Homo sapiens: one gene and its partners. The protein of the gene in region 4 interacts with the protein of the main gene of each other region in a pairwise test. Each region holds a gene or a part of one and is shown on either strand. Other genes may lie near its edges.

Region 1 (7,035 bases), on a different chromosome or scaffold from region 4:
TGAACCAACACCCGTGCCCTGGGTGCGAGCCTCAGGCATGAATTCAGAGTCCTTTTGGGCTTGAGCTAAACCAGCAAGGGGATGTCCCAAGGGGGCCAGTCCCCAGCTGCTGGGCTGTTTGTGGCTGGGCAGACGAGGAGTCCGTCGACGCAGAGGGTGCCCCGGTATCCTGTCCGTGGTTCTACCCTGTGGTAGAACAGCATGACGTAACCTACCATAGGGTAAAACCACTGGCAGGACACAGAGAGAGACACACACAGGGCGCGGCCACACCAGAAGCCCACCAAGCAGAGCCTGGAGAGGAGGTCACCACGGAAAAAAGGAACATCCATCCACGGGGCCAGCGCAGAAGGCAACGCCACCACCGAACAGAGGACCAGAAGCAAGTTAACCCAACACCAAGCGGGAAGACATGCCCACACCGGGAGAGGTCTCGAGCGGAGAGGTCGCTGCGGGCCACAGCGCTCTCTCTCTCTGCCGGGGCCCTTCTGCCCTGCTGTCCAAGGCAGCATTTCCCAGAGGGCCTGTTAACTTTTATGGGTGGACCAGGGTGAAGGCAAGACAATGCTTTGGACTCTTTTTAGGGTGACATAAGCCGTTACAGTTTTACTGACCCCAGGCATGTGACATGCAGTTGAGCCCTGCTCAAGGCCCTGTGGATCGTGACACAGCTTATCCACACGGGGACACCTGACTTCACCTGCCCTGGCTGCCTTAAGAGGAGGGGATCCCAGGGTCAACTCTAATGGATGACCACATGGCCCCTATATTCAACTGCCCAGATGCTGCTGGCCTGGTTGTTAAAGTACAGAAACATGACACATTGGTAGATAACAGAGCCATTGTACTGAGCTCTCGCCCCTCCCAGGAGTCCTCCGTCGCCTCATGACCCAGTAACTAAAGGCTTAATGTCCAGCCCAGTGGGGCACCCCAGGCCCCTGTTCCAGGCCCAATGGACTGGCCACATGGATTCACGTATTTTGTTTTTTTGTTTGTTTTGTTTTTGAGATGGAGTTTCGCTCTTGTTGCCCAGGATGGAGTGCAATGGCACGATCTCGGCTCACTGCAACCTCCTGCCTCCCAGGTTCAAGCGATTCTCCCGCCTCAGCCTCCCCAGGAGCTGGGATTACAGGCATGCACCACCACGCCCAGCTAATTGTGTATTTTTAATAGAGACGGGGTTTCTCCATGTTGGTCAGGCTGGTCTCGAACCCCCGACCTCAGGTGATCCACCTGCCTCAGCCTCCCAAAGTGCTGGGATTATAGGCGTGAGCCACCGCGCCTGGCGGGTTCACGTATTTTGAATGCCACACTGTGCCCATTCCTGAAGATGCATGAGAGCTTTGGGAGGGAATGTGAGCAGGGGGCAGGCAGCTTTCTGGCCATTGATGCTGTAGCCTGGGGAAGCGGGGTACAGGGCAGCCTTCCGGGGCACTCAAGCTCACCTGGCGATGCCCCCATAGTCCAGGCCCTCCTCGCCACGCATGATGATGTAGAGCCGGCGGCGCAGGTCATAGGGTTTCATGTTCATGATCTGGGAAGACAGAGCATCGGGCCAGCCTGCCACTCTCCCTTCCACAGCAGGCAGGGGCGGGAGGGACAGGGGACTCTAAGGCCCAATATCCAGCAGACACAGTCACCAAGACTCACGCCCTGGAAAGTCTGCAGTGTGGGTTTAACAGGCCACGCGATAGGAGATGGGGTGCTGGGAGGAGGGCGTCGGCCTGCCACTGGTTTCGGGCACCATGATCTAACCTGTTGGAAGGAATCTTCGAAAAGCGTCTGCCTGGAAACGCTGATCTTCACGTGGCTAGGTAGGGCATTTGACTGAAAAAAAAAAAAGAAAAGAACTTTAAATCGAGCCTCAAGTGGTCATCTGTTCTCCTGTCTGTATGAACAGGCATTCCCCAGCCTGCTGGGCCAGGAGGCAATAGCATGTGCCCTAGGAATGAAAACTAGCTTCCTAGAGACAGCCAGCTCCGGGTTAGACAAGTGTCTTGCGCCCGCCTAAGACACAAACATTCCGATACCTGCTGCTGTGCCGGGAACTCACACTGAAATAACTCAATAACCCCAACTGCCACGGGAGCCCCAGTACCAGAACTCACATGGCAGAGGAAACGGAACTGGTGATACTTCCACCGAAAACTGCGGTCATAAGCACCAGGGGAACCTTGCTTCGTCCTAGGAAGAGCAAAGATGTTCAGGGGTTCATGCGATTTCTCAGAAAATGAACAATTTGTCTTTGTCAGCCCTAAGGAAAGCTGGTGCTATGTTAATTTAAAGATTAGTAATGTAAGGTGAGGAAGTGACTGTCATTAAGATCCTTGAAGAATAAAAAAGAAAATCTAGAAATAAAGCCAGACTTCTTGCTTTTAGAGAAATAACTCTAGTGTCATTCGGAATAAACAGGATAGTCCCTTCCTCCCCATCCCATCTTATTTATTTGTTTGTTCGTTTTCTAGAGACGGGGTCTTGCTCTGTCACCCAGGCTGCAGTGCAGTGGTGTGATCATGGCTCACTGCGGCCTCGAATTCCTGGTCTTAAGCGATCCTCCCGCTTTAGCTTTCCAAGTAGCTAGGACTACAGGAGTGTGCTACCACACCGAGCTAATTTTAAATGTATTATTATTTTTTAGAAACAGGGACTCACTCTGTCACCTGAGCTGGAGTGCAGTGGTGCCATCATAGCTCACTGCAGCCTCAAACTCCTGAGCTCAAGGGATCCTCCCACCTCAGCCTCCTATGTAGCTGGGACTACAGGCATGCACCACCACATCCAGCTAATTTTTAATTTTTTTTTGTAGAGATGGGGTCTTGCCATTTTTCTCAGCCTGGTTAATCTTTTTTATTGTTGTGGAGACACGGTCTCGCTATGTTGTCCAGGCTGGTCTCAAACTCCTGGGCTCAAGCTATCCTCCCATCCCCTTTAATATGACATCAACATTGGCCACTAGAGGGCAGTAAGGGCAGTAGAACGCACCACAGGGGCCACCCAAAGTGGGCCTCCCAGAGCCAGAACAAGGACAGCCTGGGCCTCGGCTCCTGACACTGCTGCTACCTGCACAAAGTCCTTACCCCGACTCAAACCCCGGGCGAGGATCCTTAAAGGTGGTGGTGCGGGTATTGTGGTCCACAAAGTATCGCACCCCCTCGCTGGTGTATTTCATCTCCCATCCTGGGGGCAGAGCTGGTTCCTGGATCATCCTGGAAACACGGGAAGAAAAGGGTGAAGGGCTGGCCCCACCTTCTGGACCTTGGTGGTTGGAGGCTGGGTCCTCAAAGTGTGGCTTTGTCTCTGCAGAGCCCATGAGGGACTTTGAGGACATGCACCCAAGAAGCATGACCCAAGTCGTGAGAACAGTTCTGCAGCACGGAGAGGTCACTTATTATCTCATGGCCAAAAACCCAGCCCTGCATGGATGGCATTGGACTGAGCAGCCACCAGCAATCCTGAGGCACCCTGTGCCCCAGCACAGCTTCACTTGGGGGTGTTGGGAGACCAGGATGCCCTCAACCTTTTTGCAATCCAATTATCAGCAGCCAGCACAATCAGTATGGAGACCAGCAACACCCGCCAGCCGGGCCGCCCTCCATCCACCAGGAAGGTCTATTTAAGAAACCCCTTTTAAGCTCTCATCAGGCCAACAGTGTATCTGTACGGTGAGAGTCTCAAGACACTTGTGTGTGGCTAAAGGTCCCTGACATCAGCCCTCTGGGACGATGCAGTCCAAAGCCACCTGCCCAGTGCTGGAGCTGCACAGAGACCCAGCCCAGCCCGGCCCCCCTCTCAGCCCAAGTCCTTACCCCTGGGTCCGGGGATCCTCCCACTGGGTCGTGCGAGTGTTATGGTTCACGTAATACACCCGTCCATTGTCCTGTCTCTTCTCTGCCACATGAGAAGAAAGAAAGAACATCAGATTCAAACACGGAGAGCCGGTGTCCTTTCCCTGAGGTTCCCACCTCCTGGGTGCTGGGTCTGAGTTTATCTCCCTGTTGTCAGCCTGTTAGAGAAGAACCAGCCAAAGCCAAGCTCACTCACACTTGTCACTGGGAAAGGGACAAAGAGGGTCCTTCCTTGTTGGTGGTGGGGGGCGGGGGTGACATACTTCCAACTCGAGATGAAGCACTTCTTTGGTTGATTGGTCGGAGGGAGGGGGTGGTGTGGCCACCCAGAGGGAGCAGCACAGCTCAAACCAGAGGCATAATTGCTCCCAGCTGTGTGCAGCATGGAAGCCGGGCAGTCCCTAACCCGCCAGGCCCCCCACCCAAGTCCCTCACAGCTGATCCCTGGTCCTGGGACCCTCTGCACTGCATGCAGCTAACCTGGGCGCCTCTGTCCTACAGGGCGTGGTCCTTATGGAGTGGCTGCATTTCCCTCGCACCTCTCTGATCAGTGCTCTGCACCCTGCGCCCCTGTACCCTCCAAGTTCTCCCTCTTCTCCCACTTACAGGCTAAGTCTTGTTCTAAAACTCTCATACCCTGGCACGCCTCTTTCTTGCTTATAAGCAAATAAATGATATCTGGGGCTGAGGACACTTACACTGCCCAGCCTCTTCTTAGACTTGTATCTTTTTTTTCTTTTTTATATAAAGACAGGGTCTCGCTATGTTGTCCTGGCTGGTCTCGAACTCCTGGCCTCAAGTGATCCTCCCGCCTCAGCCTCCCAAAGTACTGGGATTACAGGCAATAAGCCACCGTGCCTGGCCTGCCTATCCTGTTCTTAGGCCTAAGTATGTGCTTTGAGACAGGGGAATGTTCATGGAGTGGGGCTGGGGAACAAATACACTTTTCCTCTGCTCTGAACAATCTCTGTTCTCTTGCCCTTTACTGATATACTGATAAGGGCTCTGGGGTCCCCAAGGGAGGAGTCTGTGCTCCAGGGGCAGACCCAACCCTAGCTGGTGATTCTGGACCTTGAGAGGGATTGAAAGGGATAACCTCTCAGCTCCAGGTAGACAGGAGAAAAAAAAAACAAAAAACTAGGGGGTAAAGCTCTTGGCTCAAAAGAGGTCACCTTTCCCAGGAAGTTCCTGAGCCTTCAAATCTGCTTCTCTCCTGAAAACAAATGATGCTAATGGCTCTCCTTTTACAAGACAGGGCAGCATTAAAGAAACAAAAATAATCAGTTCCAGAAGCTACAGGGAACCAGAAAGCTGAAAAAGGAGCAGAACAGGGAAGTGCAACAACCCCCTCCTGACTCCAAGACTCGAGCTGCAGTGCTCCCAACACCAGACCAAGGCCTCAGTCTCCCTCCCACTCTCTGCCTTACCTGGTATCTATGACTCGACTGAAATTTTACAAACAGACATTATTTGTCAATCATACCTCAGTAAAGCTGGAAAAACAAATAAATAAAATAAAAATAAAGACAGGCTGGGCACGGTGGATCACGCCTGTAATCCCAGCACTTTGGGAGGCTGAGGCAGGAGGATCGCTCGAGCCCAGGAGTTCGAGACCAGCCTGGGCAACACAGCGAGACTTCATCTCTATTTTGTAAATAAAAAATAAATAAAAGAAAGCCAAAGGAAAGAAAGAACAGGAGGTGCCCAGAGCTGTTACAGAGCTACCACCACCTCAGAACACACAGAAGGAAGGCTTCCCAAGAGGTTTCCAGGGGAGGGGCTGCTCCCAGCCCCGAAGCTACTGCTTTGAACTAGATCCTCCACGTCTGCCCTGTTAAGGGCCAAAGCCAAGGCTAACCACAGGGCCAGGGGGATCTGTCCAGCGGGCTTGAGGCCTGTGTCGTCATTTCTGGCACTGCTGCTGTGTGGAGGCCTCCCAAGGCCGGCTGGCTGCCTCGCGGCATTCAGTTTCAGTTGGGGGCTGGGAAAGACCCCAGGAACACCTGGCTCGACCTCATTTTAGGACAAAGGGACTCAGACATATTCAGCCACAGGCCCAGGGTCAGGGCTGCCGAGGGCAGATGTGGATCTGAACCCGAGGTGTCCTGAGTCCCACAGCAGTGTGTGGGGAAGATGCGGGGTCTCTCCTGGGGCAGCAGAGAGGGACACCAGCAGGCTGGGTTAGCAAGCTGCCGATCACTCTCACTTGGTCTGGCTGTTCTTCCTGTTCATTCTCGGTGAGCCCTGGGGAGCCGGCCCCAGCCACAGCCCTGGGGCAGCCAACACAGATCCCCAAGGATCTGAGATTCAGAAGGAGCCCTGGCCTTTAGCCAGAATGTTCTTCCTCTTAATTCTAGACTATGACAGTTTTGTGGGTTTTTTTCTGATCGTTCATTAACAGTATCGACTCTGACCACGGCTCCTCCATTTCTATCTCAAATATTTCCACACTTAGCATTCGAGAGCTGTTTTCAAGTCTCCATCAGCTGTGCTTACCTGGTGACCATCACTCAGCAGAACTGGCATGAAAACCCACTTGACTGGGCTACATCACCTGCCTCTACAGAGCCTGAAATACACTAGAAGTCCCCGGCTTCTATGCCACTGGCTACTAAACAGCAGTACAGATTCTTGTTTAATCTGACGCATTTTCCCCTGCCTACTGACGACGCAGGGTCTTCAGAGTTTTACTCTCTCGCATTGGAGTTGCTGCCAATCTCTGAGATACTAATGATCTTTCTTTGGTCCAGGGAGCCATGTGGGGCAGCTATCTGCGTAAGGGATCCCCAAGCTGAACATCAACAAATGTGTGGAAGCTTCACTAAATGATCTCTCCAATCAGAAGGACCAGAAGGCCCTTCTGGCACACTGGACTGCAGTGCTCATTGACTAAGTGGTACCCTGCAGGTATAACAGGGTTGACACAACCTCTTAAATAACTACCCGAGAGCAGAAGTGTCTGCATCGAGAAGATCCAGCTCCAAACCTGCATGTTTCCAGGCATCAGATGCCCATCCTATCACTGCCAACTTCCCAGGATGCACCTCTCCATCTTTGTTGTCGAGCGCACCCCCTCCCAGTTTCACACCATCTGTCAACACCACCAAACCAACGTTTACCGTCTTCTGCTGGCCTAACCAATAAATGAAACCCAACACATGCTGGTTCCCGCAAAAACTGCTTTCTTCTG
Region 2 (7,035 bases), on a different chromosome or scaffold from region 4:
TACCTCTCCCCATTGCACACAAGTCAACAAACTGCTCTAGAAAGTTAAGTTCTCCCAGGCCCAGAGTAAACATATACTCAATATTCTTCCATACTTTATTATACCATAAGAAGCAAACTTCTGAAGGAGATACAATTAAAGATACCACAGGTGTCCTAGCTTGTCAATATTCTGTTTTATCATTTTCATTAACAAAGCAGATTACAATGTAGCCCTAATTTGCATTATAATTAGTTGTTACAAGACACTGCACATTCTCCTGAAGACACACAATGATTTCCAAGATGCCAGGTCACTCTTCCAATCAGTGAATGGCGAGCTCACTGGCAGGTGCAGGGCTACTTCCTGTATTCCAATGATGTGCCTGAAATAGCGCTTTGCAAGATGAGCGTGGATTATGTGGACACAATTTTGAGGCAATCTCCATTACACATTTGGTAGAAGACTGCCTAACTTAATCTTACTATTAGTGTATTAGTGTTGTTATATTATGAAGACATATTATATTCCATTATTCTGCTTAGCTCAAGGAAGAATAAAGAATTTGGACCAAAATTATAACCAGATTATGAGCAATTTCCTAAGCAAAAGAAACAAAGTAAATGCTGAGGTTAATAAAGATGTAATAATTCTCTTCACATGGCCTTTACTGTTTGTGAACTGTGTAATTTAAAATCCTGAGCTTAACAAAAATCTTTATAAATCAACTCATCAAAACAGGCATTTGGCCAATAAGAATTTAATTTCACATCAATAAAACTTTAGACTTTAGATTTATTTAGGGCTGTTTGCATATGTTTATAGAATAGTTTACTCTAAAAGATGACAAGACAGCTCCCCCTCAGTGAGACCCTGGCCTAAATATATTTGCTTTATTTATATAGCAAGAGGATAACATTAAACATGGAAGCTTTCAATTTGTGGCACTGAATAATCTACACAGGGCATCCTTCAAAGGCTACAATTAAGGATCCACCTAACTTTTCAGCAATACAAGCCCGATTGAGATCTTCTGGTCCATTTGCTTGACATTCATGTTTTATGCCTAGAGAGAAAAAACAACACTTCTATTTACAATTATGGCAGCAGTTTACCTCTTTCTCTAAGATAACCAAACTTTTAAAAGACCAGTTCTAATCTGGATAAACTGGGGTATATACAAACACGGAATACTACACAGTAACGAGAAAAAATAATTGTAACTACATGCATCAAGATAGATGGGCCTCACAAACAGCATTCACTGAAAGAATCCAGATTTAAAATGCATATATTCTATTATATATATAGGTATAGCATACAAAATCAGCCCACGCTAACTTACGCTGTTAGAAGCCAGGGTGCTGGCTACTTTGAGGAGGAAGGGGCAGGCAGAAGTGCTATGAATTGAAGGGAACAGCACCAGGGAGGCTTCTGGGGTGCTGGTCATTAGATTAAGAAATAACCATTATGTTCACTCTGAAAAATTCAACACATTCTACAATAATTTGTGACATACACTTTTCTAAAGATATGTTGTACTTTGCTAAAAAGCTAAAAGGCAGGTCTAGTAAGAAAATTTTCTTGGTTTTTAAAACATAAAAATACAAATGATTTTTGATTGCACAGTTGATTTTGTCAACTGTATTGAAAAGTAAACAGCTGGCTCTTCAATGGTATTACACTACACATTTATGAAATCGATCACAATGAAAACTATGTGAAATATGTTACTGATTGCTTTCTTAGAACAATTACACTACCACAATGCAAAAACGAGCTCAATTATGGATTACATACAGTAGCTTCTCTGTAAATGGCCACTGTCTTTTAAATAGCTGCATGGTTATTCCCATCATTTAAAGACCATTATTTCTCAAGCTGCTGAAAGCACAGCAGGTCAGCTTTTGAACTACTCAGGACTGATCTGAGAAAGACAGTGGATGCTTTCATTAGAAAAAAGGCAGCATGGTCACTATCTTTTTTTTTTTTTTGAGACAGAGTTTTGCTCTTATTGCCCTGGCTGGAGTGCAATGGTGCGATCTCAGCTCACTGCAACCTCTGCCTCTTGGGTTCAAGCATTCTTCCTGCTTCAGCCTCCCAAGTAGCTGGGATTACAGGCATGTGCCACCACGCCCGGCTAATTTTTTTTTTGTATTTTTAGTAGAGACAGGGTTTCACCATGTTGGTCAGGCTGGTCTCGAACTCCTGACCTCAGGTGATCCACCTGTCTTAGCCTCCCAAAGTGCTGGGATTACAGGCATGAGCCACCACACCCAGCCGGCCACTATCTTTTAGTATCACCAAATCAAGTGTGCAAAGCAATTCCCTTTACTGAAAGGCAATGCAGAATAAAGATAATAAGGAATCCACTGTGAACCTTTTGGTTGGGCTGGGAAAGTGTTGAAGCTAAAGGATTTAAAAGTGTCAGTTAGCAACCCAGTGACACACTTCTGGGGGTTGCCAAACATCAAACCAAATGCACGAAGAACCTGACCCAGCAATAAACTATGCAGCAGCAAGGCTCGGGAAAGGAAGCAAGAATTTTTTTTTCCGAACTAAGTAAAACAGGCTAGGGCAAACCTGTTCTACCATGAAAATATAAAAACCAGTGACAGTAAAACAAACAAAACAAAATCAACATCAGGCCAAGCCCTTGTGACCTTGGCTCACTCAGCTGTTTGGAAACAGCCATGGCAGGAAGGTGGCAGGGCAAACTCTTAAACTAAAACTCACACATGAGACCAAGTCTCCCCTTCTACAGCTGAGAGAATCAAGGCCCATGGAGGTTAAGCAGTTCTGGCCAAGGCCACACAGCAGTTAGACAGGCTTCGCCCTCAGTGCAGGCCTTTGGGCACTTGCCCCATGCACGTTCTTTCCATCATACCAACATTTTCTCCTGGCTGAAGTCTGGCCAGGCCATCTCATCAGGATCCCAATCACCCAGTGGCAAGTCAAATACAACTGACCAGCTCAGGAGTGGGTGCACTTTCCTTGGGACACAGATGAATTAATTACCTAAAATCATGCCATTCAACAGTAAAGCTGGAGAAAAGAGCATCCTTTCTCATTTAGGTACATTTCCTTTTTGCAACTTTATTATAACAACTACATTCAAAGGCAAGAGCAAATTTACTATTATGTCCAATGTTAAACAATCAGTCTCCACCTCCTACATGAGAAAACTGGTAGCACCTCAAACTAGTTTAAAACCAGCCTGAATAAACGATATATATAGACAATGTCAAGGGTATAGTTATTAAACACAGGCTGGGCAGACCCAGAGCAACCAGCACAAAGCAGAAGATACATGGAAAGTCAAATTCAGTCTTCTGCTTTTCTCAAAACAAGTAACACTTCTCCCTTGTGCCCGAAGCTCTGCAAAAAAATAAGGTGCTTCTCAGAAAAGGTGCTGCCCCATTCTGAGTGTTCACCATACCTCTACATATTCAGAGGTCATCTAGAACATACCTTGAAATTTCTTTTTAATTGCATCCTTGGAGCTTGCATAGATCATTTTACTTTTCAGAGGTGCTAGTTCTGGTGCCCTAGATAGAAAGATGCCAAAAATGAAAAAAGTGGTTTAGAGAAAGTATAACTTGCAACTTGTTAAACATTTGCTTGTGTAAACATTTGCTGAGAATCCTCAGACTCTCCTGAGATATTTTTTCTTAACTGCACATTTTTTCTACCTCCCCAGCAGCTCAGAGAGGAAATGCTACAGATAGGCATATGCAGAATCACTCAGGTTGACCAGGGTGGGAAAAAAGAAGAGAACCACTGGTGGCAAAAGACAATCACCAATTAAAAATCAGATTACAGTCGCCATAATGAAAGAACCAACACTGAGTACTTCACTGTATAACCCAATTCTTTTTCTTCAGAATATTTTTCATTATTATTAATAAGGGATTGGATTCAGGCTAATATTTACACAAGGTTTTTGACAGTTTTTCTAGTTGGAAAAAAGTTTTAAAATACATAAAAGTACAGAGAATAATCCGTAAGTACGTGTGACCCAGAATTAAATGCTAATATTTTGGCACCTTTGCTTCAGATTGTTTTCTAAAAAAGAATAAATCAAAAACTTAAAAAAAAGGACAAAAAAGAATAAATTACAAATAAAAGTCCTTTTCTTAGACTTCCCCAGTCCCTTCATCTATTCCAATAGCAGGTTTTGATCCCACAGGTACTTGTTTTCTTAGTCTAACATAACAATACATGTTTAATTACAGATCTGGGCATCCACGTTTCAATAATTCTCTGGAAAAAAATATTAAATCCACTTGTATAATCTCATGATTCTAAAGATTTCTAAATGGCAACTCACCAATAATTATGTCTTAACTGTCAATATTATTACTATCTTTTTATATTTATAACATTGGAGCACGTTCTCCCTCTTGAAGGGAAGCGTGTTAGAAGCACAGCATATGTGTCACAGCACCTTCAGCAGCAACACTGAAGAATAAGGATGATTAGTAACGGACAGAAACCCTCCCACTCAGACTGCTTGCACGGAGGTCCTTCTTTCCTCTGTACGCCAACCCATAGGCCCACCTCCATGCCACACTGCTAAAATATCACAGAGAAGATGCAGTACAGTAAGTCCACACTTAACATTGTCAATCAGTTCTTGGAGCCTGTGACTTAAAACAAAATGACATATACCAAAACCAGTATTTTTTTTTCTCAATGTTATAACAAAACTACATTGAAAGAAATGACGTTATTTGAGGACCTGGTGTATGTTGTTTTGCTTAAAGCTGTAGTTTCCAAGAGCCTACTGGAGGTCATTAAGATATTACGGTATAGCTAAATACTTCTGAGCATTTAATAATTCCATTTAGCTGCCATATTTCCAGGACATTCAACAGCCATGAGCACTGGCATGTGGACCTCACCTAGTGTACCCCTTACCCTAGTGAGCAGAGATTCCATTCTTGGGAAAAAGGGCAGTCTGTCTCTCAGAGGCTTATTCCTCCCAATCCTAAGGTCCAGGGAAGGAGGCAGAGCCATCACAACCTCAGGACTGGCAGATGTTTGAGCTACAGGGTGGGTACTTTTTATTTTTTATTTTTTTGAGGCGGAGTCTCGCTCTGTCACCCAGGCTGGAGTGCAGTGGCGTGATCTCAGCTCACTGCAACCTCTGCCTCCCAGATTCAAGCGATTCTCCTGCCTCAGCCTCCCGAGTAGCTGGAACTGCAGGCGTGTGCCACTATGCCCAGTTAATTTTAGTAGAGATGGGGTTGCACCATGTTGGTTGGCCAGGATGGTCTCGATCTCTTGACCTCGTGATCTGCCCACCTCCACCTCCCAAAGTGCTGAGATTACAGGCATGAGTCACTGCGCCCAGCAGAGTGGGTACTTTTGTTATGAAAATAGGTCAGAAACATAAAAAAGCATCAGCTGTTCTGCTTTTATTCTAACCAAATTGTTAAACTACTTTAAGAGCTGCTCCCTGGGCCATGGGCGGAGCTTGTTATAGAAAATGCCTTTAATAAGGTTCTACCTTTTCTTAAGTAACAGTGTAACAGTGCAAAATAAACCACTGCACTAACACTAAATTTCCTTTTCTTCTATTATTTTCCACATTTAAAAAAATAAGAATGCATACTTTTCATAATTACAAAATACATAAAAAGCAGAAAAAATACCTGCAAATTAAGGAAATACCGACCAATTTAAAAGCCTAAACCATTAGCTGGCCTGTCTGCCACTCAGCTGTGAATGCCAGAAGAGGAAGGACTTAACCTGTTTTATTCACAGCTGTTTTCCCAGGCCCTCGCACAATAGCTGGCGTGTAGTAGAAATAAAGTTCAGTAAATGCACCTTCATTCAAATCCTTGTTAATTTTCAGTCTTATGTACCAGCTTCAATGGACTCTAAGCTGCCTGAATACGTGCACCCTGACCTCATATTTGCATTCCTCACAGCAACTTGGTTTAATCAAGTGCAGTAAAAGCTTACTGAAATACAAGTGAGGTGTGACCTCGAGTTATCTTCCTTTTTAAACCACAATCCTCTGCATCTCCTACTCCCATATCCCTTTTACACTCCAAGCTATTGATGGCACATAGCTAAAAGCTAAGTCCCTCCCTGCCTTGCCCTGACTCAGGCCAAAGTATCAAGAGAATCCTTGCCCCTCTAAAAAAAAAAAAAAGAAAAAAATCAGGTAGTGTTACCATTTCTCCCTCCCCTTAGAAACTAAAGAATTCTACTCCTGGCCATATCAAGGAATGCAGTATAATATTCAATAAATGAGGGATCCAGGTGTAACTTTTTTCTAAAGCTTCATCTCAAATACCGACTTGCCTGAAAAGACCAGAATAACTAAACAACATTTCAAGAAAAAGGCCATAAAAATAACTTTATAGCCCTGTTTCACTATCTAAGAGTAACACTGCCCAACAGAGTTTTCTGCAATGATGGAAATGTTCTGTATCTGTGCTACTCAATAAGGTGGCCACTAGTCAGATGTGGCTACTGAGCATTTGAAATGTGGTAATTCATTCAGCTAACAAACTGAATTTTTAATTTTAAATAATTTAAATAGCCACATGTGGCTAGTGACTACACTACTAAACAGTGCAACTGTAGAGCAAATTATAGCAGGGAGGGAATGGTACCAATTTCTTCAAAAGTAGTAGACCACAGAGGCACAAGGAAGGGGTGTAATTTAAAAGAGTAGATAGAAGGCTGGTTCCTGGCATGGCTCGTTGGAAAAGTAGGGTTTTGGCTTATAAGTAAGAAAGTTAAAAGTAGTAGGAAATTTTAGCCTATAAAAGCAGTACATTCAGAGGATGCCTCCTGTCCTTTCCCCATTGAAAAAAAAAACAAAAACGGAGAGTCACATAACAAGTAGATAGAAAATAGTCAAAATTTAGTTTGGGTCCCATAAACATCAGCCCTGGTAACATTATGAAACCTGTAAATAAAAATTAAATGACAACAACTGCAAATAGTTTGAATAAAAATTACTTTGGTGCTGGAACTGGTCTTCCCGAGTGCTAACAAAATGAGTTTTACAGAGGCTCAATATTTCTAACATGCTTA
Region 3 (7,035 bases), on a different chromosome or scaffold from region 4:
TCGTAGGAACCCCAGCTACTGGATGGCAATGCTTAAGGACAGGGGGGTCTGCTGACAACCGGGGACTCAAGGGGCCCACCTCCTCTCCCTGCTCTCACCACTCCCCGCCCCCTAGGCACAGCAGTGACTCAGACTGAAGGCCCTTCAGCTTGAAATGGGGACAATTTTCTAGTGACCACGAGGCAAGTAACCGTCCGGGAATGCATGGGTCAGTGTGTGTTGGGGTGTGGGGGGGTCTGTGGGCCCCAGCCTGCGGGGGGAAAGAAAGGGGGAAATGTGAGAGGCCTCTCCTCCCATCTCTCCCTAGCTCTCACTCTCTCGGAAGGAATGTCCGGGCTCAGGATTCCCCCCCACCCCTTATCCCACAGCTCAGCCTGGACCCGCTCTGGTCTCCTCCCTCCTTTCCCCAAGCACAGACTGAACCAGCCTGGGCCGGGGGAGGGGCAGAAGTTAGGAGTGGGGGTGCAGGCGCCAAGGAGCCAGGGACCTGAGGGAAGAGGGCGCGCTGAGGCTGCTTCTGGTCAGGGAAACCATTCTCCTACACCGACCCCAGCAGGCAGCTGCGCCCCCAGAGCTTTACCCTGTCTCTGCACTGACCTTGGGGAAGGAATTTAGGGAGGGGTAAAACAAGGCTAGAGCTGGTACCATTACTGCCCCGGGAGAGTCCCCTCTGCCGCCACCAGAGACAGCCACCAAAGCGCCCCACGGTAGGACGATTCGAGATGGAGCTGCAAGGGGATTTAAGGCCCGGCTCGCCCTTTGAGTCGGGGTCGTCGGGGAGACCCTCGGTCTCCACTTCTCCCTGCGGGGGTGGGGGCGGGGCCGCGCTACTGATGAGGGGTTTAGGACACCGTGAGACGGCCAGGCCATTTCTGCCTCGGCCCCAGACGCAGAAGGGGTCCCATGCAGGCCCGAGCCAGTGCACCCTGCGCTCCCTCAGCCGCGGGCCGTCGGCGCAGGCCGGGACCCTCCTCCGCGCGAGCCCTGCACTCCTCCGGTGCCCTCCACGCCGCCACCGGCTGCTGCTCGCAGCCTCCCGCCATTGGCCAGGAGCTCTGCGGCTCCCACCAGTGAGCAGGCCGGATTCCGGTGAGGGGCGGCCCCGGGTGTTCCCGGGTTAACCCTTTGTGGGCCGCTCCAGGACGGCGGCACCCGGATCCTTCTCTAAAATTTAAAGGGCGGGCGGCTGAGGCCAGGCTCCAAGAGAGGGTGCAGCCGAGAAGAGGGGTACGCAGGTCTGCAAGCAGGAGAGCTCGGGAACCTCTCCTCCAAGGGAGGGAAGCCGGCGCCGGCTGCGCGTGACAGCCGAGAAGGAGCTTATATTGGCACGACTATAGGAAAAAGTCTTTAACGAGGAGGGAAACAAATCATAATATGTCCTTCTCCGGCTTCCCACCCCCGTTGCCTGGAAAGGCACCCCTGTAGGACGCTCACCCCCTGCAGAACCCTGTCGCCCTCAGAGCGTTGACACATGGCTCCCCTGAAGTTCGTGAACTCCTGGCCGCCGACCCCTTGCTCTTGCTCCCCAATTTCCATCGGACAATCTAAACCTGAACTTTTGTGTGTGAAGTGGAGGGAGGGCTGGGTGTGGTTGGGGGTAGAGGGGACAAGGGGGCGTGCTGGAGCGGAGGAGGTCTGAGGTCTCCAAAATGGGCTTTCCAGGGATGGGGCCAAGTGGATGCGGTGGAAGGAGTGAGAGGACCAGAAGGTCCCGCACACGCCAGGGCAGCCCTGGACTTCACCAGCTCACTTTGCAGCCCCGGACATCACCAGCTCGCTCACTGTGCGTCCTGGGTAGCTGTGTTTCCCTCTCTGGACTGGAGTTTTCTCTACTAAGAAATAGGAGGGGGGGAACGAGGGGCAGGGGACCGTCGGGGAGCTTTCTCCCGTCCCTTCTGCCTCTAACTTGGTGATAGAAACCAACCCTACCTTAGCCGCCATGAGAGGCCAGGCATCAGACGGAACTAGGGCCGCAGAGCGCTCTAGGGGAGTCCCTGATGGCAGTGCTCCCAGGAGGGCGAGGTGGGCCTAGGGATGATGGGACGCGCCCACCGTCCACCCAGCACCTGAAGAAGCCCGGCGCAAAGAGGACCTGGGCGTCGGAGTGTCCTCCACCCCCACCCCGCCTGCCCCTTGGCCGCCCTCCCCTTCCACTTGGCTCCCGTTGCTCTGGAAGCTCCATCCTGCTGGGTTTTGGCTGCTGTTTCTAGCAGGTGGGGTGGGGACTGCTCACACAATGGGGCCAGCTGAGCTCTCTAAGCAGTTTCCTGTGGGCACCCTAAAAGGGTCTCTGGGAAGAACCTGGGTCATCTGCCTGAGCCAAGGCCTTCAGGGAGTCCAGCCCAGATCCGAGGAAGCATCTTTCCTCTCCCAGGCCCCAGGAAGGGGCTTGGCAAACCCTTATCGCCTGAGAAGCAGCTGCTGGAGAAATACCTTAGCGGCTGACTCACCGGCTCCCTCTGCTCACAGCCCCCTCCCACTGGGCCCAACACCAGGCCTTTGAGAGACCCTAAGGGAGAGAACTGGCGGAAGCGCCCCCAGCCGGCAGGCCCGGGCTCTGCGGAGGGTGTAGCCAGCGCGGCCCTGGCTGTGGCTGGCTGGGTGGTTGGGGGGTGGTTATACCCTGTAAATGGCCTCTGTCTGGGATCACAGTGATTCTTAGAAACTCATTCAGCTCTGACCTCCTGGTACTGCCTCACTCCAGGTATTGATGGACAATTGGTATGCTGATGGCATTGCCATCTGGGTTCTAAGGCCCTGTCCCTCCACCAGTATCATGAGCCAGGTGCTGGAAGGCAGCAGGTGAACAGGGTGCAAACCCTGCTTCAGGGCAATTACCGGACCGGGGAGGGTCTGCTGCAGTTGTAAAAGACTGGACAGTGAGGGATGGTGGGCACCTCCCTGCTGCATTAGCGCCCTTGGCCTCAGTTTCTCTCTCTGTCAAATGCCAATATGCATTTGTCTTGTCTCATTGGATAATTGTGAAGATTAAATGAAATAATGCATAGGAGAGCACTTTGGGTTAAAAGCACAACAGAAATGTAGGATGATGATTGATTGCTGGCAAACTGGGAAGTGGGAGAGTACCCCTGCCAATGGGGCTTCTGAGCTCATTTTGTCCTGGATTATCTCATCAGGCTTTGTTTGGAGGGAAAGGCCAAACATTCCCCCCACAACTCCCACCATTGGTTCCAAGCTCAGCTCGGGGACAGAGTTTAGGGGCTGCAGTTTTCATGATGACGATAACTAACAATGATCGAGCATTCACTCTGTAGCAGGCACTGTTCTGTGTTTTATATGTACAGTATTTACTCATTTTACCCTCATACTCCTATGAGGTGAGTACTAATCTAACAAAATTTTAGATCCTCATGGCAACACTATGAGGTAGGAACTATTATTTTCCCCTTACGGATAAGGAAACTGAGGCACGGGGAAGTTAAGCAACTTAGCAAGTGGTGGAGCTAGGAGTCAAAAGCACGTCTATGTGACTCCAGAGCTCGTGTTCATCTCCTACTCCATGCAGACAGACTCATGTGGCCCTGAACCTTATGCTCATACAGAAGGCTTCTCTGCTCATTACCTTCCAGGTTGGGACAGGCTCCCAATATTCCAGGCCAGAAAGGGCCAACAACTCCAGACCTTGAAGGAATCCCCTGGCACAAGCCTTTAACCACTCAGCAGGCAGGGCTTCAGGACCTAAGGCAGCCCCCCATCCCCCATCTCTTCTGACCCACCAGCAAATTCATTCGTTCAATAAATAAGGAACAAACAATAGAAACATTTATTGGACAGGCACGGTGGCCTACACCTGTAATCCCAGCACTTTGGAAGGCCGAGGCGGGCAGATCACTTGAGGCCAGGAGTTTGAGACCAGCCTAGCCAACATGGTGAAACCCCATCTTTACTGAAAATACAAAAAATTAGCTGGGCGTGGTGGTGCGCACCTGTAGTCCCGGCTGCTTGGGAGGCTGAGGCATGCAAATCACTTGAACCCGGGAGATGGAGGTTGCAGTGAGCCAAAATCATGCCACTGCACTCCAGCCTGGGTGACAGAGTGAGACTCTCACAAGCAAGACAGAAAGAGAGAGAAAGAAACATTTCTTTACACATTTATAATTCTTTAGAGAGAGAAAAATAATGTACAAGAACCTACCATATGTCAGCCACTGGAGTGCTTTACTAACAATAAGAGGCAACGTTTATTGAGTAATTACTATGTGCCAGGGACTGTTATAAGGCCTGTACGTGGATTAACTTGTTTAATCCTCATGACAATCTTGGAAGGTAGGAACTATTAATATTACCAGCTGTACAGAGGACGAAATGAAACAGAGAGGTTAATTGACCTTCCCAAGATCATGGAGACCAAGATTTTTCAGACTTTTTTGTTTCTAAGAAATATATTTTACATCATTACCAAGTACACACATGTGCGTTCACACACACAACTGTGATTTTTTTTAATTGCCAGGTATTTAACTCCACTGTGTGCTGTGCACTCTGATATTTTCTACTTTTTTTTTTCTGTTTTATTTTTACTTAAAATTCTGGTCGTGACCCACTAAATTGATTTCACAACCCATTAATGAGTCACCACCCACAGTTTAAACAGCACTGAATCATAGCTAGAAGGATGGAGGCCACCATTCGAACCTAAATAGTAGGGCTCCGGAGCCTAACCTCTCCATATAAAGGATGGCTTGGGAAAGGAGAGAGACCCCGAAGTCTTGAGGACAGATGGACACTGTGCTGCTGAGGAGACTGGAGGCCTCAAGAATCCCACTGCCCTGCATCACTCCCTTCCCACATTCCAGCAAAAGATCATACAAAATTCACTAATATTGCCTTTGGAAAACAAACTTGTTGGCGTAGACACACGGTTGTTCTTTTACTTTGTCTTCACATCAGCCTATGAAGGAAGTAAGAAGGACTGAGAAACTGACTCACGCAGTTTAAGTGATTTGACAAAGGTCACAGAGCCCAGTGTCCTGTTGCCTGGTCCAGGGAGTTTTTGATCCCATCCTGAGCTCACCCTTGCAGATAACAATGGTGAGCGTGGAGCTGGTGGTAGAGAGAATGGGATGACAGTGGTAACGGTCATGATGGAAATGATGAGAGTTGGTGTTGCAATGTTGGTACTGGGGAGATTGGTGATGTTGCTGATATTAATGGGAATGGGCACAGTAATGGGAGGTTGCAGGGACAGTGGTGGCCATGGTGGGGTGCTGCACCACCACAGTAGCACCTGCACCCCCTTCCCAAGCAAAGCTGAATTCCCTCTTCCCCTCACCTCTTCCTTCCCTAGCACTTTCCTGAGCACCTGGACCACTTTACGGAGAACATGGAGGACTTCTCCAATGACCTGTTCAGCAGCTTCTTTGATGACCCTGTGCTGGATGAGAAGAGCCCTCTATTGGACATGGAACTGGACTCCCCTACGCCAGGCATCCAGGCGGAGCACAGCTACTCCCTGAGCGGCGACTCAGCGCCCCAGAGCCCCCTTGTGCCCATCAAGATGGAGGACACCACCCAAGGTAAGAGGTGGAAGAACCTGGGGACAGCACAGGCCCAGGAGGCCCAGGAGGGAGGAAGCTCTGGGGTGACAAGAGAGTGTGCCTGCAGCCTGAGACTCCCAGAGGCTCCAAGAGGAGCCACCACAAACCCCTTAGGAGGTGCTCCTCCCTGCCTTTCTGTTCTCCCTCAGCTCAAAGCCAGAGGAGCACTTCTCAAAAGGGTTTTTTGCTGACTTAAGTCAGTGGTTTACAAAGTGTGGTTCCCAGACCAGCAGCATCACCTGGGAATCTGTTAGACATGCAGATTCTCGGGTTCCACCCCCAACCTGCTGAATCACAACCCTGTGGGTAGGGCCCAGCCTTCCAGGTGATTCTGATGCACACTCAGATTTGCAAACCGCTGACTTAGAGGAGACAGTGGGGGTAATTCAATAATAACTGTGGGGCCGGGTGTGGTGGCTCACGCTTGTAATCCCTGCACATTGGGAGGCCGAGGCAGGTGGATCACCCGAGGTCAGGAGTTCGAGACCAGCCTGGCCAACATATGGTGAAACCCCGTCTCTACTAAAAAAAAAATACAGGGCCGGGCGCGGTGGCTCACGCCTGTAATCCCAGCACTCTGGGAGGCCGAGGCAGGCGGATCACTAGGTCAGGAGATCGAGACCATCCTGGCTAACACAGTGAAACCCCGTCTCTACTAAAAATATTAAAAATTACCCGGGGGTGGTGGCGGGCGCCTGTAGTCCCAGCTACTTGGGAAGCTGAGGCAGGAGAATGGCGTGAACCCGGGAGGCGGAGCTTGCAGTGAGCCAAGATTGCGCCACTGCACTCCAGCCTGGGCGACAGAGCGAGACTCCATCTCAAAAAAAAAAAAAAAAAAAAAACCAACTAGCTGGGCGCGGTGGTGGGTGCCTGTAATCCCAGCTACTCGGGAGGCTAAGGCAGGAGAATCGCTTGAACCCAGCAGGCGGAGGTTGCCGTGAGCCATTGCACTCCAGCCTGGGTGACAAGAGCGAAACTCCGTCTCAAAAAAAAAAAAAATACAAAAATTAGCCAGGCGTGGTGGTGCGCTCCTGTAGTCCCAGCTACTTAGGAGACTGAGGCACAAGAACTGCTTGAACCCGGGTGGAGAAGGTGTAGTGAGCTGAGACCGCACCACTGCATTCCAACCTGGGCAACAGAGTGGGACTCCATCTCAAAAATAATAATAACTGGCTGGGTGCAGTTGCTCATGCCTGTAATCCCAGCACTCTGGGAGGCTGATGCGGGTGGATCACCTGAGGTGAGGAGACGAAGACCAGCCTGGCGAACGTGATAAAACCCCGTCTCTACAAAAATACAACAATTAGCCCAGCATGATGCCCTCCATCACATGGTGCCTCCATTACATGCTGCCTGTCATCCCAGGTACTTGGAAGGCTGAGGCAGGAGAATCACTTGAACCTGGGAGGCGGAGGCTGCAGTGAGCCAAGATTGCGCCATTGCAATCCAGCCTGGGCAACAGAGTGAGACTCCGTCC
Region 4 (4,176 bases):
CTTGCTAAGAGTCTTGTGTTTTCTTCCGAAGATAGTTTTTAGTTTCATACAAACTCTTCCCCCTTGTCAACACATGATGAAGCTTTTAAATACATGGGCCTAATCTGATCCTTATGATTTGCCTTTGTATCCCATTTATACCATAAGCATGTTTATAGCCCCAAATAAAGAAGTACTGGTGATTCTACATAATGAAAAATGTACTCATTTATTAAAGTTTCTTTGAAATATTTGTCCTGTTTATTTATGGATACTTAGAGTCTACCCCATGGTTGAAAAGCTGATTGTGGCTAACGCTATATCAACATTATGTGAAAAGAACTTAAAGAAATAAGTAATTTAAAGAGATAATAGAACAATAGACATATTATCAAGGTAAATACAGATCATTACTGTTCTGTGATATTATGTGTGGTATTTTCTTTCTTTTCTAGAACATACCAAATAATTAGAAGAACTCTAAAACAAGCATTTGCTGATTGCACAGTAATTCTCTGTGAACACAGGATAGAAGCAATGCTGGAATGCCAACAATTTTTGGTGAGTCTTTATAACTTTACTTAAGATCTCATTGCCCTTGTAATTCTTGATAACAATCTCACATGTGATAGTTCCTGCAAATTGCAACAATGTACAAGTTCTTTTCAAAAATATGTATCATACAGCCATCCAGCTTTACTCAAAATAGCTGCACAAGTTTTTCACTTTGATCTGAGCCATGTGGTGAGGTTGAAATATAGTAAATCTAAAATGGCAGCATATTACTAAGTTATGTTTATAAATAGGATATATATACTTTTTGAGCCCTTTATTTGGGGACCAAGTCATACAAAATACTCTACTGTTTAAGATTTTAAAAAAGGTCCCTGTGATTCTTTCAATAACTAAATGTCCCATGGATGTGGTCTGGGACAGGCCTAGTTGTCTTACAGTCTGATTTATGGTATTAATGACAAAGTTGAGAGGCACATTTCATTTTTCTAGCCATGATTTGGGTTCAGGTAGTACCTTTCTCAACCACCTTCTCACTGTTCTTAAAAAAACTGTCACATGGCCAGGCACAGTGGCTTACATCTGTAATCCCAATACTTTGGGAGGCTGAGGTGGGGGGATTACTTGAGGCCAGGAATTCAAGACCAGCCCAGGCAACATAGTGAGGCCCCATCTGTCTTTATTAAAACAAAACAAAACTGTCACAGCTTCTTTCAAGTGATGTTTACAAATTCCCTATGGTTTAGTCACAAGGAAGTTCTGAGGATGATGTATCACGTCATTTCTGTTCAGGCTTTTGAGCCTCCTGGAGGTAAATGGTTTCCTTACTGAAGGCTTGTTATTACCATGATTATCACTAAGCTTGAAGTAACAAATTAGGGGGGCAGACTCACAACCTCTTGCCCTGCCATGGACAAGTTCAAGAATCTAAGTAAAGTCCTCTATTGTCTGATCTTGGATTTGCTCAACCTGAACAAGCCAAGGAGGTGTATTAAACTCAGGCACATCCTGACCAATTTGGAATTCTTAAGCTTCAGATCACTGTGGAAGAGGCTCAACTCTTTATGGTGCTGTAGACTTACGCTCATTTTCTAGGTAATTTATAAGGGACCTAATATTTTGTTTTCAAAGCAACTTCAGTTCTACTAAACCTCCCTGAAGAATCTTCCAGCTGCTGAGTAGAAAATCACAACTAATTTCACAGATGGTAGAACCTCCTTAGAGCAAAAGGACACAGCAGTTAAATGTGACATACCTGATTGTTCAAAATGCAAGGCTCTGGACATTGCATTCTTTGACTTTTATTTTCCTTTGAGCCTGTGCCAGTTTCTGTCCCTGCTCTGGTCTGACCTGCCTTCTGTCCCAGATCTCACTAACAGCCATTTCCCTAGGTCATAGAAGAGAACAAAGTGCGGCAGTACGATTCCATCCAGAAACTGCTGAACGAGAGGAGCCTCTTCCGGCAAGCCATCAGCCCCTCCGACAGGGTGAAGCTCTTTCCCCACCGGAACTCAAGCAAGTGCAAGTCTAAGCCCCAGATTGCTGCTCTGAAAGAGGAGACAGAAGAAGAGGTGCAAGATACAAGGCTTTAGAGAGCAGCATAAATGTTGACATGGGACATTTGCTCATGGAATTGGAGCTCGTGGGACAGTCACCTCATGGAATTGGAGCTCGTGGAACAGTTACCTCTGCCTCAGAAAACAAGGATGAATTAAGTTTTTTTTTAAAAAAGAAACATTTGGTAAGGGGAATTGAGGACACTGATATGGGTCTTGATAAATGGCTTCCTGGCAATAGTCAAATTGTGTGAAAGGTACTTCAAATCCTTGAAGATTTACCACTTGTGTTTTGCAAGCCAGATTTTCCTGAAAACCCTTGCCATGTGCTAGTAATTGGAAAGGCAGCTCTAAATGTCAATCAGCCTAGTTGATCAGCTTATTGTCTAGTGAAACTCGTTAATTTGTAGTGTTGGAGAAGAACTGAAATCATACTTCTTAGGGTTATGATTAAGTAATGATAACTGGAAACTTCAGCGGTTTATATAAGCTTGTATTCCTTTTTCTCTCCTCTCCCCATGATGTTTAGAAACACAACTATATTGTTTGCTAAGCATTCCAACTATCTCATTTCCAAGCAAGTATTAGAATACCACAGGAACCACAAGACTGCACATCAAAATATGCCCCATTCAACATCTAGTGAGCAGTCAGGAAAGAGAACTTCCAGATCCTGGAAATCAGGGTTAGTATTGTCCAGGTCTACCAAAAATCTCAATATTTCAGATAATCACAATACATCCCTTACCTGGGAAAGGGCTGTTATAATCTTTCACAGGGGACAGGATGGTTCCCTTGATGAAGAAGTTGATATGCCTTTTCCCAACTCCAGAAAGTGACAAGCTCACAGACCTTTGAACTAGAGTTTAGCTGGAAAAGTATGTTAGTGCAAATTGTCACAGGACAGCCCTTCTTTCCACAGAAGCTCCAGGTAGAGGGTGTGTAAGTAGATAGGCCATGGGCACTGTGGGTAGACACACATGAAGTCCAAGCATTTAGATGTATAGGTTGATGGTGGTATGTTTTCAGGCTAGATGTATGTACTTCATGCTGTCTACACTAAGAGAGAATGAGAGACACACTGAAGAAGCACCAATCATGAATTAGTTTTATATGCTTCTGTTTTATAATTTTGTGAAGCAAAATTTTTTCTCTAGGAAATATTTATTTTAATAATGTTTCAAACATATATAACAATGCTGTATTTTAAAAGAATGATTATGAATTACATTTGTATAAAATAATTTTTATATTTGAAATATTGACTTTTTATGGCACTAGTATTTCTATGAAATATTATGTTAAAACTGGGACAGGGGAGAACCTAGGGTGATATTAACCAGGGGCCATGAATCACCTTTTGGTCTGGAGGGAAGCCTTGGGGCTGATGCAGTTGTTGCCCACAGCTGTATGATTCCCAGCCAGCACAGCCTCTTAGATGCAGTTCTGAAGAAGATGGTACCACCAGTCTGACTGTTTCCATCAAGGGTACACTGCCTTCTCAACTCCAAACTGACTCTTAAGAAGACTGCATTATATTTATTACTGTAAGAAAATATCACTTGTCAATAAAATCCATACATTTGTGTGAAACTTTGTTGTTTTCAGATGCGTTCACTTGTCATGTTTCATCAGTCTCTCACTCCAATTTCTAAGCTTCATGGAACATGAAACACGAATCTGTCTTTTAGATATAGCCTCTTTTGAGAATTCACATGAATTAGAACACACATTTTTAGTTATCTGTTTAAACTATGGTAAAATATACATAACATAAAATTTTCCATTTTAACCATTTTAAAGTTCAGTTCAGTGTCATTAGGTACATTCACATGGTTGTGCAAATATCACCATCATCCTTCCACAGAATTTTTTTCTTGCAAAACTGAAACTCTTTTTACCCGTTAGTCAATAATCCCGCATTTATCTTTCCTCTAATGCCTGGCAACCACCATTTTACTTTCTGTCTCTGATTTTGACTACTCGAAGGACCTAGGAGTGGGATCATACAGTATTTGTATTTTTGTGCTTATTTCATCTAGCATAATGTCTTCAAGCCTCATCCATGTTGCAACATGGGTCAATTTTCTTCCTTCTTAAGGTTGAATAATATTCATTATAGAGTAGT

Evidence for each region.
Region 1: the proteins of CFTR (region 4) and WWP2 interact in binary tests that used the Homo sapiens proteins (3 or more experiments, as listed by UniProt).
Region 2: the proteins of CFTR (region 4) and DSTN interact in binary tests that used the Homo sapiens proteins (3 or more experiments, as listed by UniProt).
Region 3: the proteins of CFTR (region 4) and CREB3L1 interact in binary tests that used the Homo sapiens proteins (3 or more experiments, as listed by UniProt).

Annotation. Positions count from the first base shown.
Region 1 is NC_000016.10:69,926,301-69,933,335, reverse strand, and holds part of WWP2 (NEDD4-like E3 ubiquitin-protein ligase WWP2), read right to left. Parts: intron 3,889-7,035; coding exon 3,807-3,888; intron 3,207-3,806; coding exon 3,078-3,206; intron 2,185-3,077; coding exon 2,109-2,184; intron 1,828-2,108; coding exon 1,756-1,827; intron 1,535-1,755; coding exon 1,446-1,534; intron 256-1,445; exon of another isoform or gene 156-255; intron 1-155. UniProt on the Homo sapiens protein: E3 ubiquitin-protein ligase which accepts ubiquitin from an E2 ubiquitin-conjugating enzyme in the form of a thioester and then directly transfers the ubiquitin to targeted substrates.
Region 2 is NC_000020.11:17,601,047-17,608,081, reverse strand, and holds part of DSTN (destrin), read right to left. Parts: intron 3,528-7,035; coding exon 3,451-3,527; intron 1,046-3,450; coding exon 936-1,045; 3' UTR 1-935. UniProt on the Homo sapiens protein: Actin-depolymerizing protein. Severs actin filaments (F-actin) and binds to actin monomers (G-actin). Acts in a pH-independent manner.
Region 3 is NC_000011.10:46,294,627-46,301,661, forward strand, and holds part of CREB3L1 (cyclic AMP-responsive element-binding protein 3-like protein 1), read left to right. Parts: intron 1-532; exon of another isoform or gene 533-707; intron 708-5,308; coding exon 5,309-5,537; intron 5,538-7,035.
Region 4 is NC_000007.14:117,665,025-117,669,200, forward strand, and holds the end of CFTR (cystic fibrosis transmembrane conductance regulator), read left to right. Parts: intron 1-434; coding exon 435-540; intron 541-1,883; coding exon 1,884-2,084; 3' UTR 2,085-3,641; downstream 3,642-4,176. UniProt on the Homo sapiens protein: Epithelial ion channel that plays an important role in the regulation of epithelial ion and water transport and fluid homeostasis. Mediates the transport of chloride ions across the cell membrane.